Regions from separate parts of the Homo sapiens genome. Here region 2 is linked to region 1. The links come from fine-mapping of genetic effects on gene expression. Tissue or cell type: whole blood. Region 1 holds a variant in brackets; the other region holds the start of a gene. All regions are shown on one strand. Distances are between the middles of the regions.

The links. PIP is the estimated chance that this variant, and not a neighbour inherited with it, causes the effect.
Region 2: it holds the start of DSE, and the variant in region 1 is fine-mapped to the expression of DSE in whole blood (TOPMed, PIP above 0.99).

What each region holds. Positions count from the first base shown.
Region 1 is chr6:116,205,675-116,211,734 of GRCh38, reverse strand. The region is part of intron 6 of NT5DC1 (5'-nucleotidase domain containing 1); the gene reads right to left. It also overlaps a transcript of COL10A1 not described here. Among named protein-coding and RNA genes, the nearest start is that of TSPYL4, 45 kb to the left of the region's middle. The variant C/T (reference allele first, on the strand shown) is at 2,890.
Region 2 is chr6:116,367,888-116,373,367 of GRCh38, reverse strand. It overlaps DSE (dermatan sulfate epimerase), which reads right to left and starts at 2,421. Exons shown (of 6, transcript NM_013352.4): 1 at 2,247-2,421. It overlaps LOC100287467 (a long non-coding RNA gene), which reads left to right and starts at 1,649. Exons shown (of 1, transcript NR_148944.1): 1 at 1,649-5,480. RefSeq lists enhancers at 1,550-2,050, 3,565-3,614 and silencers at 2,048-2,342, 2,105-2,634.

The DNA.
Region 1 (6,060 bases):
AAAATGTCTTAGAAAAAGGAAATTCTCTGTAATAGGTAGTACAGAATTTGTACACAGTTTGTCCAGGAATAAATATACTTCGTGGACTCTATATTTTTTACATGTAAATTATTCTAAGTCCAATACATTTATACTTATTTGGCATGGCTAATGAATGGCTGTTCTAGTTAAATTAATTTGTAGGTTAATTAAGAATAACCAAATATACAATATAAAAACATACATAAAATACAGTCAACTCTTACTGTTGAACCTATATGGAAAAAAGAACTATTTAAAGAGATTAAATTATTGCTTTTCTTATATATGATACACTTTTGCTAGAGAAAATTCATTGTATTGGGTTTTTTATTGCTGCACAACAAACCACCTCAAACATGATGGCTTAAAATAACAATGTATTATCATCTCCTGATTCTGAGGGTTGACTGAACTCAGCCAGGCATTTCTCACTTGGAGTTGTGCCCGGGGGTATGGAATCATCTAAGGGTTTCTTCACTCACTGTCTGGCACCTGGGCTGGGCTGGCTGGAACGGTGAGAGCTGGTGAAACAAACATCTCTCCACTTAGCTAGCTTGAGCTTTCTCTCTGCATTTGGGTCTCACAGTAGTTGGACTTCTTAAGTGGCGGTGGGTTTCCCCCAGAGCAAGTGTTTTAAGACAAGCAAAAGCTGCAAGGCTCCTTATGACCTAGTTTTAGGAATTTTACAGTAGCACTTCTGCTGAATTTTACTGATGATAGAGGTCCAGCTCATTTTCAAGGAGAAGAAAACAGAAAGGTGTGACTTCTGGGAGGCATGATTCATTAGAGAGCTATCTTTGTAGACTAGCTGCCAAACATACTAATACTTCTATGTGATTCCTGCCAGTATATTTTCTGTTCATATCTAACTCTGTGGGAATTTTAAGCATACCATATATAGTTTTTTTTACCTGTGTTTCTGTTCAGCATTGTATCTGAGGAATTTCCTATGGCATTAACATTTATTTTAAAACATTTCCATGGTTTTAACTTAATATCACTTTTAAAATAGATTATTTATAATAATTATCCTCATAATAACTGACATAATCTGAGTGCTTATTTTTGCCAAACACAGTTCCAAGACCTTTATAACTATTAATGGATTTAATCCTCATAATGACCCCAGGAACAGGTCCTATATGATTCCCGTTTTGCAACTGAAAATCCGAGATACAGAGAGGCTAAGGAACTTGCCCAAAGTCACACAGCTACCATGTGGCAGAATCGGAATTTGAATGCAGGCGGTCTGCTTTCGGAGCTTGTGCAATACTGCCCAGTTACAAGGCATTTGGGGACTCTATGGTAACTACAGGGTCACCACAAATCTTTACTCTTTTTTTTTTTCACATGGTACATTATTACATTTCAGGGGTTTGAGGTTGTTCAGAATTTTAATAAGTGAGAGTTCAGAATTTGGATAAATTTTGACAAATCAAATTAGCTTCTTTTTGAACCTTACATATAAATTTATTTAAAATCTTGCAATGTGGAAAGTCTTTTAAGCATGGCACTGAACTCAAAAGCCATAAAGGAAAATTGAAACACCAAATTAGATTTCTGCAGAGGAAAAAAGTATCCATCAATATGCATTCTAATTATATCTAGAATTAAAAGGAGCCTTAGAAATCACACCCTTCAACCTTGTCATATTAAAGATGATTAAGTAGCCACCACATATTTTGCTCAAAATTACGGTTAGTAACAAACTTGGGTATGGAATAGAGTCCTCAAGAATCCTAATCCACTAAACCTCATCATTTATGTGTCTAAATCTATATGTTTGAGATTTAACTTATTTGATGACCATTATCTGTTAAAGAAAAATAACTTGCGTTCAGAAGCAGAAATCAAATGCTTTAAATGGTATGCCTGTTTAGCTATATAATTATTGGATAATAATTATAAAATTCAATTCTGCTTTTCCTCAGGATTTCTGCAGAAGTTCTTTGTCACTGAACTGATATTGTCTCTGCTATTATCTGGAAACTCAGACCTTCCACTGAGATAGGAAAAAAAACCCCAAATAAACGTCTAAAATTAAGGCATAAATATTATCTCCCTTCCTGGAATACTCTGCCTTCCCTCTGCTGCCTGGTGAACCTTGGAAGCTTGTCACAAGGTTACCTTCTATGAGGAGCCCTCCCCAATACCCACTCTGCACATCAATGATGGCATTCATCATGTTACACTATAATCAACACTTGTAATAAGCATATTTATGTATTTTTCTTTCTTCTGAGACTCTGAGATCTTTTAAGAAAAGAACCATCTTAACATTCATGTTTATACTCCTAATATCAGGCAAGTACCAGAGGATTCCTAACTACAGAAGTAAGTGTGTGTGGGAAAAAGCTACCAGGCAAGACTTACCAGGTGACCATAAAGACCAGAGGTTGGCAAACCACAGCCCACAAGCTAAGAAAGGTGCTTACATCTTAAAATGGTAATGTAAGTATCAATATAATAGCCTTGATTTTGTCTCTTGGTGCCCAAAGCCTATAATATTTACTATCTGGCCCTTTAAGAAAAGGTTTGCTGAATCCTGATATGTAGTATTTAATAACTACGGGACAGTAACGTAATAAAAATACAATTAGTTATATATAATGCACTATTACTAGAAAGTACCAAAAGAATAATAAAATCATCAATTTAAGAGACTTTGTTTAAAGCCTATGCAGTCTCTGAGCAGAGTGAATATTACAAAATGATTTGTGATCAAACTAATGAAAGACAACATAAATACCTTTATGTATCTTTTAATCACAGTGGATCCCCAGCCATGATGTAACTGCCCTTCAATTACTCTCTGGCCTGGGTTCTCTATTAGTATATTCTATGAGCCAGATGATGGGTCTCTTTACT[C/T]TGCCATCTCTTTAAAACCTATCTATATGTGCCTTTGCTATTGCTTTTATGATTTTAGCACACTTTATTTTTAGTCTCTGAATAAGATGTTTTCAGGCTCACTTGGTCTGCTTGTTAAAAGAGCAATCGCAGGGTCACAGAAAGACACTACAAGCCTAGGGCTGAAAGCCACCACTGGTAATATTTTTCCTCATGAATGTCAAAGGAAGTTGAAAGATCCCAAAAATGCACATGATGACATGATGACATGATCAGAAAGAACTAAAGAGCTTGTAGCTTGAGATGAACGAATAAAGGCACTATTGCCTAAGTACAGCCTTACAAATTAACTGTGCAAGAAATAGGAATGTTTTCCTTGGTACAGCAAAACAAAGATGCCTCCAGGTAAAACCTGGGACAGGTTTTAGGGGCTAGCTTCAAAGAGATACACTGTAGCTTTCATTTCAAACGGTTTTAAAATGTATTTGTGAAGCATAAAACATTTTGGGAGGGTTTTGTTTTCAACAGAAGTCAGCCCACTGACATTATCCTTACTTGAAATCTTCCACCTCCTTCAGAAGAGAGAAGCTGGAAAAAATTAGGAGAACTAAAATGGGATGCCTCCGGGCAAAGCAGACTCAGAAATGTGGCAATGCTTATTCCTTTGAAAAAAGTTACAGTTGACTTCTCTAGCTTTGAGGCACAAAGAGATCAGAAAAAATAACAGGAACATAGAAATCATAAGCTAGATATTAGGGGTCATTAACTATCAATGTCTTAAGGAAATCTGCCCCACACTGAGGACTGAAGTGCTCAATTATTTAACAAACGAAAGACCTGGAATAGAACTTTCACTGTGTTTCTTCTAACCTGGTTTTTCTTCTGTAGTAGGTAGCCTAACAGAATGCCGAGACAACATTTCAGTATGTATACACTATGCTAAACTCAGCTCCCAAATCAATATAAATAACAAAAATAATCTGTGATGGGAACCCAGTCCTCATTCCATAATGATCAGTAATGAGGCACAGAGTAAAGAAAGCCTGGGGCGGCTCTTTATAGCCTCTGCAAGGAGTGGGCAGAGACTCAGGTAGAAATACAGTGGGAACCTGGGCACGAGGGGTTCACAGTTGAGTAATGGCTGGGTTCCCAGAATATTCTACTCTAAGCAGGGCTTTTAACCATCTAAATTCCTCTTTTTTCTTCTTTGGTCTTATTTTTGCCTTTTTCACACTGCCTGCTTCCAATCTAATGCAACAAGTTTATATATTTTGGGTATTTTTTAGAATTAACATATAATCATAATAAAATACAATCATATATACTTTTCAAACATAAAGATGAAAGACTTTTTAAACCAAAAATTAAGTAACTCTTTACCCGGTAAGCATGAAAAAAAATCTGAAAAATAAGGTTATAAACTTAGTCTTTACCTATATAATATGGACATATGTATCTATCATCTATCTAATTAAAGATTGTAAAGGATTTTTTTTGCTTTCTCTCTTTAGAATACATTAAGTCCACCATAAAAAAGAAAACATTTACTTCTATAGCTATAGACTCTATTGATCTTAAAAGGAAATGCAGGTACAGAAATATTTTTTCCCATGATTTCTTAAGACATATGATCCATTTATTGAGTGCATACCTTCAATCTTTCAGAATAAAGTGGAAGAAATCTGCTGTAGGCAGGGAATAGGTATAGTTATTAATGCAGAGATATCAGCTCCCAGAGGATCTGAATAAAACAATATTGTAATAATGAAACTATTTTCTAATAAAAAATTACATTCTTTTGACCTAGGAAAAAGTTTGTTAAGAAAGCATATGACATAAGTGATCAGACTATTTATTTTTAAAAGGAAAGATGTCAATATAAATCCAGAGAACTTTAAATTCTAGAATTACTCAATAAACAAGAAGAAAACATTTAAAATCCAATTTAAATGAGACAAATATTTTGCACACAATTATTTGGCAAATGTTAGCAATAAACACTAAATGCCCTATGTGTATTCAATGAAGAAAAATGTGAGTAAAGAGGAAACTGCACTAGACTTCGACCAATTAACAGTTTATCTAAAAACTATGGCAAAGAAAATGTTTTGCCCTCCAGATATAAAATCCATTTAAAACATCAAAAGGAACTTTATCTAAATGTCTCATGCCAGCAAATTAAATCATTATGGAGCAGGGTAGGAGGGATGGCAGAAAGAAATTCATAATTTGCAGGTGACTTCATTAAGAAACAGCTGTTGCTGTTGATGTAAGGAGAGTTGCTATTCCATTTCTACTGAAAAGCTTCAGAGCACAAAGTTCTGTACCAGAGTAGACACACAGATAAAAGTATATTACAGGATATGGTCTCCAGTGTTCCTGGGTGGTATGGACCCAAATCAGACAGTCTTGAGTCAAGTCTTAGTTGTGCAATTTCCTTGGGTAAGTGCTTTAGTCATTGAGAGACTGTTGGCTTATCTATAAAATGATCACAGTTATAACACTCACCCCATTAGGTAATTGTGTGAATTATATGCAATGATATATGTGAAACATTTAGCACAATGCTTTACACATAGTAAAAATTTTGTGTTAGAGCTATTTTTACTTTAACAAGTTCCTCTGGCCTAAGTACAGGCAGTTGATTAACCACGAAATGCTATGGGCCACACTGCATCATGGAATTGCCCTGCATGGGCCCAAAATGCAAGATTTCCCTTATCAAAATGCTACTTACCTTCAAAACATATTTTGAAACATATGCTATGAAAAAACCCTAAAAGTCCTACTGAGCAGGAGGCAGGGTGGTTCTACTTTTTGTTACTTCCAGGAAAAAACACTGGGCTAGATGGTCCAATGGTCTATTAGATCATTCTCAAAGGACTGAGCAGAGAAACTTGGGGTAGCTATTAGAACCTTGGGGACCACAAAACCTAATCTCATTGTGCAGATATGAAAATGAGGCCTAGAGAGGCTGACTTGCCTATCATCATGACATAATGAGGAAAACAGCAGGATGGAATGAAAATCTTGGTCTCTTTGATTTTTTCATTACACATTCCTTACTGTCATATCTACTAATCTTATTGTTTTATCCCCTTTATTAAGACATATTACAGCCTTGTTGTAAAGATGTAAATACAATTAGTGAAAAATTTAAAATGTACCCTTTTAATACAAAATCAGAATAAA
Region 2 (5,480 bases), 160 kb before region 1:
CTTTTCAGATGGAGTCTTCTTCTGTCGCTCAGGCTGGAGTGCAGTGGCACAATCTCGGCTCACTGCAACCTCCGCTTCCTGGGTTCAAAAGATTCTTCTGCCGCAGCCTCCCAAGTAGCTGGGACTACAGGCGCGCGACACCACGCCCAGCTAATTTATTTTTTGTTTTGTATTTTTAGTAGAGACCGGGTTTCACCATATTGGCCAGGCTGGTCTCGAACTCTTGACCTGGTGATCCACCTGCCTCGGCCTACCAAAGTGCTGGGATTACAGGCGTGAGCCACCGCACCCAGCCCTTTTTTTTTTTTTTAATTCCCCTTCACTTGGTGACTGTACTTTCAGTATTTTTTAAACTGTCAGAATGTACTTTTTAGGCCAGTGTTTTTATTTAACTAAAACTTCATAAAAACGGATACTGACGTCATATACTAGTCAATGAAAAATAACTCTTCCCAAGCTCAAACTTAGGAAGTGCTGCTTATTGATGTTTCTCAGGTTCTACATTAGCAGCTCCAAGAGAGCTAAGGCTGATCTCATATACCTGTGTATGTAACCTAGGTAACCAGCACTATCTTGCACTTTTTGCTGAACCCACACAGACGGGTCACTAGGTGATGGAGACATCAAATTCAATCTGTTATCTTCTCCATTTTTACTAGAACAGACCTTACCTACATACTTCAGAAAAGAACTTATATCTGTATCGTGACCGTCAAAGGAAGAGGTCACAATACAGAAATCTAAGTATTTGCATGAAACAAATACTCAGATAATCCTATATTTTATTTTCTTCCATGCACATTAGGTTTTTTGTGATCCCATTTAGTAATATAGTTAGAATACTCTATACAATATTGTTTATCACTATTTCACATAGAGATTATCATTGAGAATTTTGTTTTGTTTTGTTTTGAGCCTGTCGCCCAGGCTGGAGAGCAGTGGCGCAATCTCGGCTCACTGCAAGCTCCGCCTCCTGGGTTCACGCCATTCTCCTGCCTCAGCCTCCCGAGTAGCTGGGACTACAGGCGCCCGCCACCACGCCCGGCTAATTTTTTGTATTTTTAGTAGAGACGGGGTTTCACCGTGTTAGCCAGGATGGTCTCGATCTCCTGACCTCGTGATCCGCCTGCCTCGGCCTCCCAAAGTACTGGGATTACAGGCGTGAGCCACTGCGTCCGGCCGAGAAATTTTTTAAAAACTTGAGGGAATTACTTAAAGTTTAAATTCTATAATGTGAAAAATACTAAAAATATGTATAAGTGAGATCTTTCATGCATTTAATTAACAGTGCTAAACCATGACTTTCTAAACCATGACCAACGAAAAAATTTTTAAAAAGAACTTTATTACACGAAGATTCCTAGAACTAAAAGCGTCATTGCCTGACCTAAAGAATTTCAGGTAAGTGAGGTTCACCTCCTGATTTTAACCAAAGGCTTCGGTTTCCATCTGAATGCCAGCCGGCTTAAGAGGAGGCTGCTGCTTTAAAGGAGCGATATAAACGAAAAAGTTCTCAGGTCACAAACTTAGCTCAGATTCCAGCCCCGACAGATCTTGAGCCCATGTGGCATCGCTTTCAGAGCTTCCCAGTCTGTGAGTCAAGCCCCCGCCTCCTCCCCTCCCCGGGACTGCCTCGGGGATGAGGTTTACTAACAATTTCTCCGAGTGCCGGCGGAGCCCAGGAGCGCTGGAATCCAGCGTCTGGGAGAGGCTTGGGGAGCTCTTCCTCGGCTTCTGCAGCCGCAAAGTAGGGTTGCCAGCGCCAGGATCTGCACACAAGCCGCCGCCACCTCCCCTGCCCCCAAATGGCTGGGGTACGGAGGGAAAGGAGGACGCGAGGGTGTGCCACCCAACCCCGCAGAGTGAAGCCGAGGCCCCAAGGACCGTCGAGGAAATCGCGGCTGGGCCGGCCAGATCCGACGCACGGAATGCGATCTCCAGGTTCTCATCGTGTTCCCGGCTCGGTGCTCGGCGTTCAAGGGGGTGGGGAGGATCGAAAAGCTGCCCCTCGAGGCTGCTCCGCCGCCGGGGAAGCCCGTGGCTCAGGCTTCACGCGTCAGGCGCTCTCTCGGAGTCCAGCCGAGCCGGGCCCGGGCGCGCAACCCGCGGCGCTCCGCTCTCAGCCGGGGACGTGGCTCTCCGTCTCCCGCCCGCGCCGGGACAGCCCCGAAGGCTACCCGCCCGAAACTCCCGAAGAAAGTTGCGCCGCGCGCCCCAGCTCGTCCCTTGCGCGCCCCTCCACTTACCGCTCCCAGCCGAGGCTTCGTTCTCTCCGGCGTCGCCTCCGCAGCCTCCAGAGCCAGCTCCCGGTCCTCCTCACTCCAGGGCGCCCGGGCTCCCGGCCCCCTCCGAACCGAGCCCTCCGCGCCCCCGCCGCGCCATGCCCCGGGATGCGCTGCTGCAGCCTCGGGCGACGCTACTGAGAGCCGGGCCGGCGGGGGCGGGTAGGTGTGGGCGAAAGGGGCGGAGGGAGGGACGCGGCGGGCGCTGAGGCTCCGCTGGAGGGGGGAGGAAACCGCAACGTCACCAGAGCCAGAGGAGACGAGGATGAGGAGAGGGAAACGGGGACCCCCTCCCCCGGCCGAACCCCGACCGCAGGCCCGCCCCGCTTTCTCCCGCTCCTCCTCTCCCGGGACTCGCCGCTCGCAGCTGTGCTCGGCCTTCCACGCCACCCGGCCCGGACTCCACCCGCACCCCCGCCCGCCAGGCCTCTTTGGCTCTAACTTGTTCTAGTTTCTTAGGACTCAAACGCTTCGGGTTCGAGAATCACACCCAAAGGAAAGGTAACTTTTGGAGGCCCAGGGGGAGGAGCTGATGCTTCCATACTACTCTGCGAGAGGAAAGCGAGGAAGACGTTAAGACTCTTACTACCGGGACTGGTGCCCACTCCAGTCTGCCTCCTCCCGAATAGTTACTGCCTCTTTTCTCTCGAATTCGGTTTTACTCTCTTCTCAAAGAGAAGTTAGTGGGAGGGGGGACTTTGGGGCGGGGGTCACCTATAGAGAAGCAGTTCTCTTTTTTACTGTACCAACAAAATACACTAAATCCAAGCGCACCGAACCCTGCAAACGGAACAGATTTTAATCACAGAAGGTCAGGAGCAAAGCATTTAATGTAGGCAGCTCACAAACAGAAATTTATCTTACGCGGTGGGGGGGTGTGTGTGTGTGAGAGAGAGAGATCCCTCATGCACCCAAGTTCAGGTGGAGCATTTGCAACCTTGGTAGTCACAGCCTCCTGGAGAAGAGTCCTCCTGTTTTCCAAAAATCAGCCACTGCTCAAACACGCTCAGCCAGGTCCAACCAGGCCCCAAGGAGATGTGAGGTAGGATCAGGGCCATCACCTCAGGAATACTTTGCCCCTTCCACCTCCACCCAGTGTGTGCAAGTAACCTACCAGACCTAGATTGTACAGAAGTGAAAGATTTGTAGGATACTTACCCATTCATTAGAATGAGAGATATTTTACTGGGAGCAGTGCTTTTCTCCATGAGTTCTGAAGGGCACCTCCATCCAATTCCTCTATCCTCAGAGGTTCTCACTTCTATTTGGCCAAATAAGGAAAAAATGTGGATGTCTCAGTTTATGCTTCTCTTTTTCAGAAATTGCATTTAAGAGGAACTCCTTACAAACAGGTCAAGAGGAAGTGGTACTATTAAATTTTTTAAATGTTCACTCAGGTGAACCACTAATTTGCATAAACTTCTTGATGCTTTAGGGAAGGCCTGTCGAGGAGAGAAGAGGGCTCTGGAAACTGGAACTAATCTTTGGTTCAAATCCAAACTTTGCTTTTACTACTGTGGGCCTTGGAAAACTAACATCAGAACCTCAGTTTCCTCATCTATAGTGTAACAATATAATACCTTGTTTGAACAGTTATGGAGAGGATATAATAAAAATAGCTAATGTTTATTGAGAGTTTACTACACCATATCAGACGGTCACTGTGCTAAGAGATTTACATATACTAATTCAATTATTAGAATAAATTGTGAAAGTGTCTAGCTGTATTATGTAATCCGTAAGTGTTAATTTCCATTTATCTTCTCAAATTTGAAAGAGACTTTAGAAAAAACATCTGGTTTAATTTACGTAACCTCTCAGCAAGTAGTAGTCTAGTTCAGTGATTCTCCAACCTAGAACTTTAGAATCAGCAGGGGAGCTATAATAAATTCTTTCCAATGGGGACCCCCACGCAAGAACAACAAATCAGAATCTCTGAGGTTAGGGTCTAAGCATCAGCATCTGCATTTTAAAATCTCTTCCTAGATGATCACAATGTACAACCAGGATTGAGAATTCTTCAAAGGAGGTAGTACTGACTGTCATTTGCTCCCCTTTACCCTCACACCCCCCACAATTTTGCTTTTGAGTGACCTGCGAATTGGCCTCTGGATGACATTCACTTTGTGCAAAGCCCCCCCCGTCCCCCCGCCCCCGCCCACCCCATTACAGTAAGTCTCAACAGATCTGCTATTCTGCTCTCTGGAATCTACAGGATACACCTAGCCTTGATTCCACAGGAGAATACTTCAATTTACCTGGGTACATATTAACTCCATCAGCTTTTCTTCATCCATTAGGAAAGCTCTCAGGAGGAGATTTACTTTGCCAACATCTCTCTCAAACCCTGATGCCAAGAATTGAATTCAAGGTTTCACCCAAGTGACAAACTAGAAAGATGTTTAATGGCTTTGTTGTAATTACTGTATTTCCCTAAGTATATCCTTGGAGCTTCCATGGCAGCAATATTACCCAGCTGACTCCATATTACAATCTACCAAATAAAACCTTAAAGTGTTAAAAGTTTAGTTGGAGAATCACTGAACTAAACAACTACACTCAATGCAGTGTTCAGCACTTTACCTGTGATTCTACTGAATTTTATTGTGTTAAATTAGGCCTCTTAGCTTGTTGACATATTGGGTATCATTGATATAACTGAGTAATTCCACCTCTCAATTTCATGACCTCTGTAAATCCGGTCTGTATGCCATGCCATCATTTAAGTTCTCATTCTCAGGTACCTTCCTCTGCCAACCGACACTGGATTTGAATGCTACTGATGAACATTCTTATCAGTTGAGGACCCACATGTTACCTTGTCCTATTTTTGTCTGTTGTCCCAGGGTAGCAGCCTGTGTACATGGGTACGTGGCACTTTTGTAAGAATTAGAAAAAGGTATCCCCACTCTCACCTTAGCTGAAGGATTAGGAAAAAGTGACCCCTTACGCCTAGATGCAGCTCCAAACAGACAGCAGATGAGCTTTGTCTATTGGATGTCTTTGCTCTACTGTAATATTGTCAAAAAACAAAGGAAATGACTACTTAGTGAATTGTGGTTCATGTCTACAAAATTGTGTCTTCCTTTTCTAAGTATCCAGATGTCATTTTAATAATAGGTTTATTCATTTTGTTCAGTATCTGTGAAAAGTTTCTTGCCTCGGTTTCAGACTAAGGCAAAAACTGGAACTCCATCT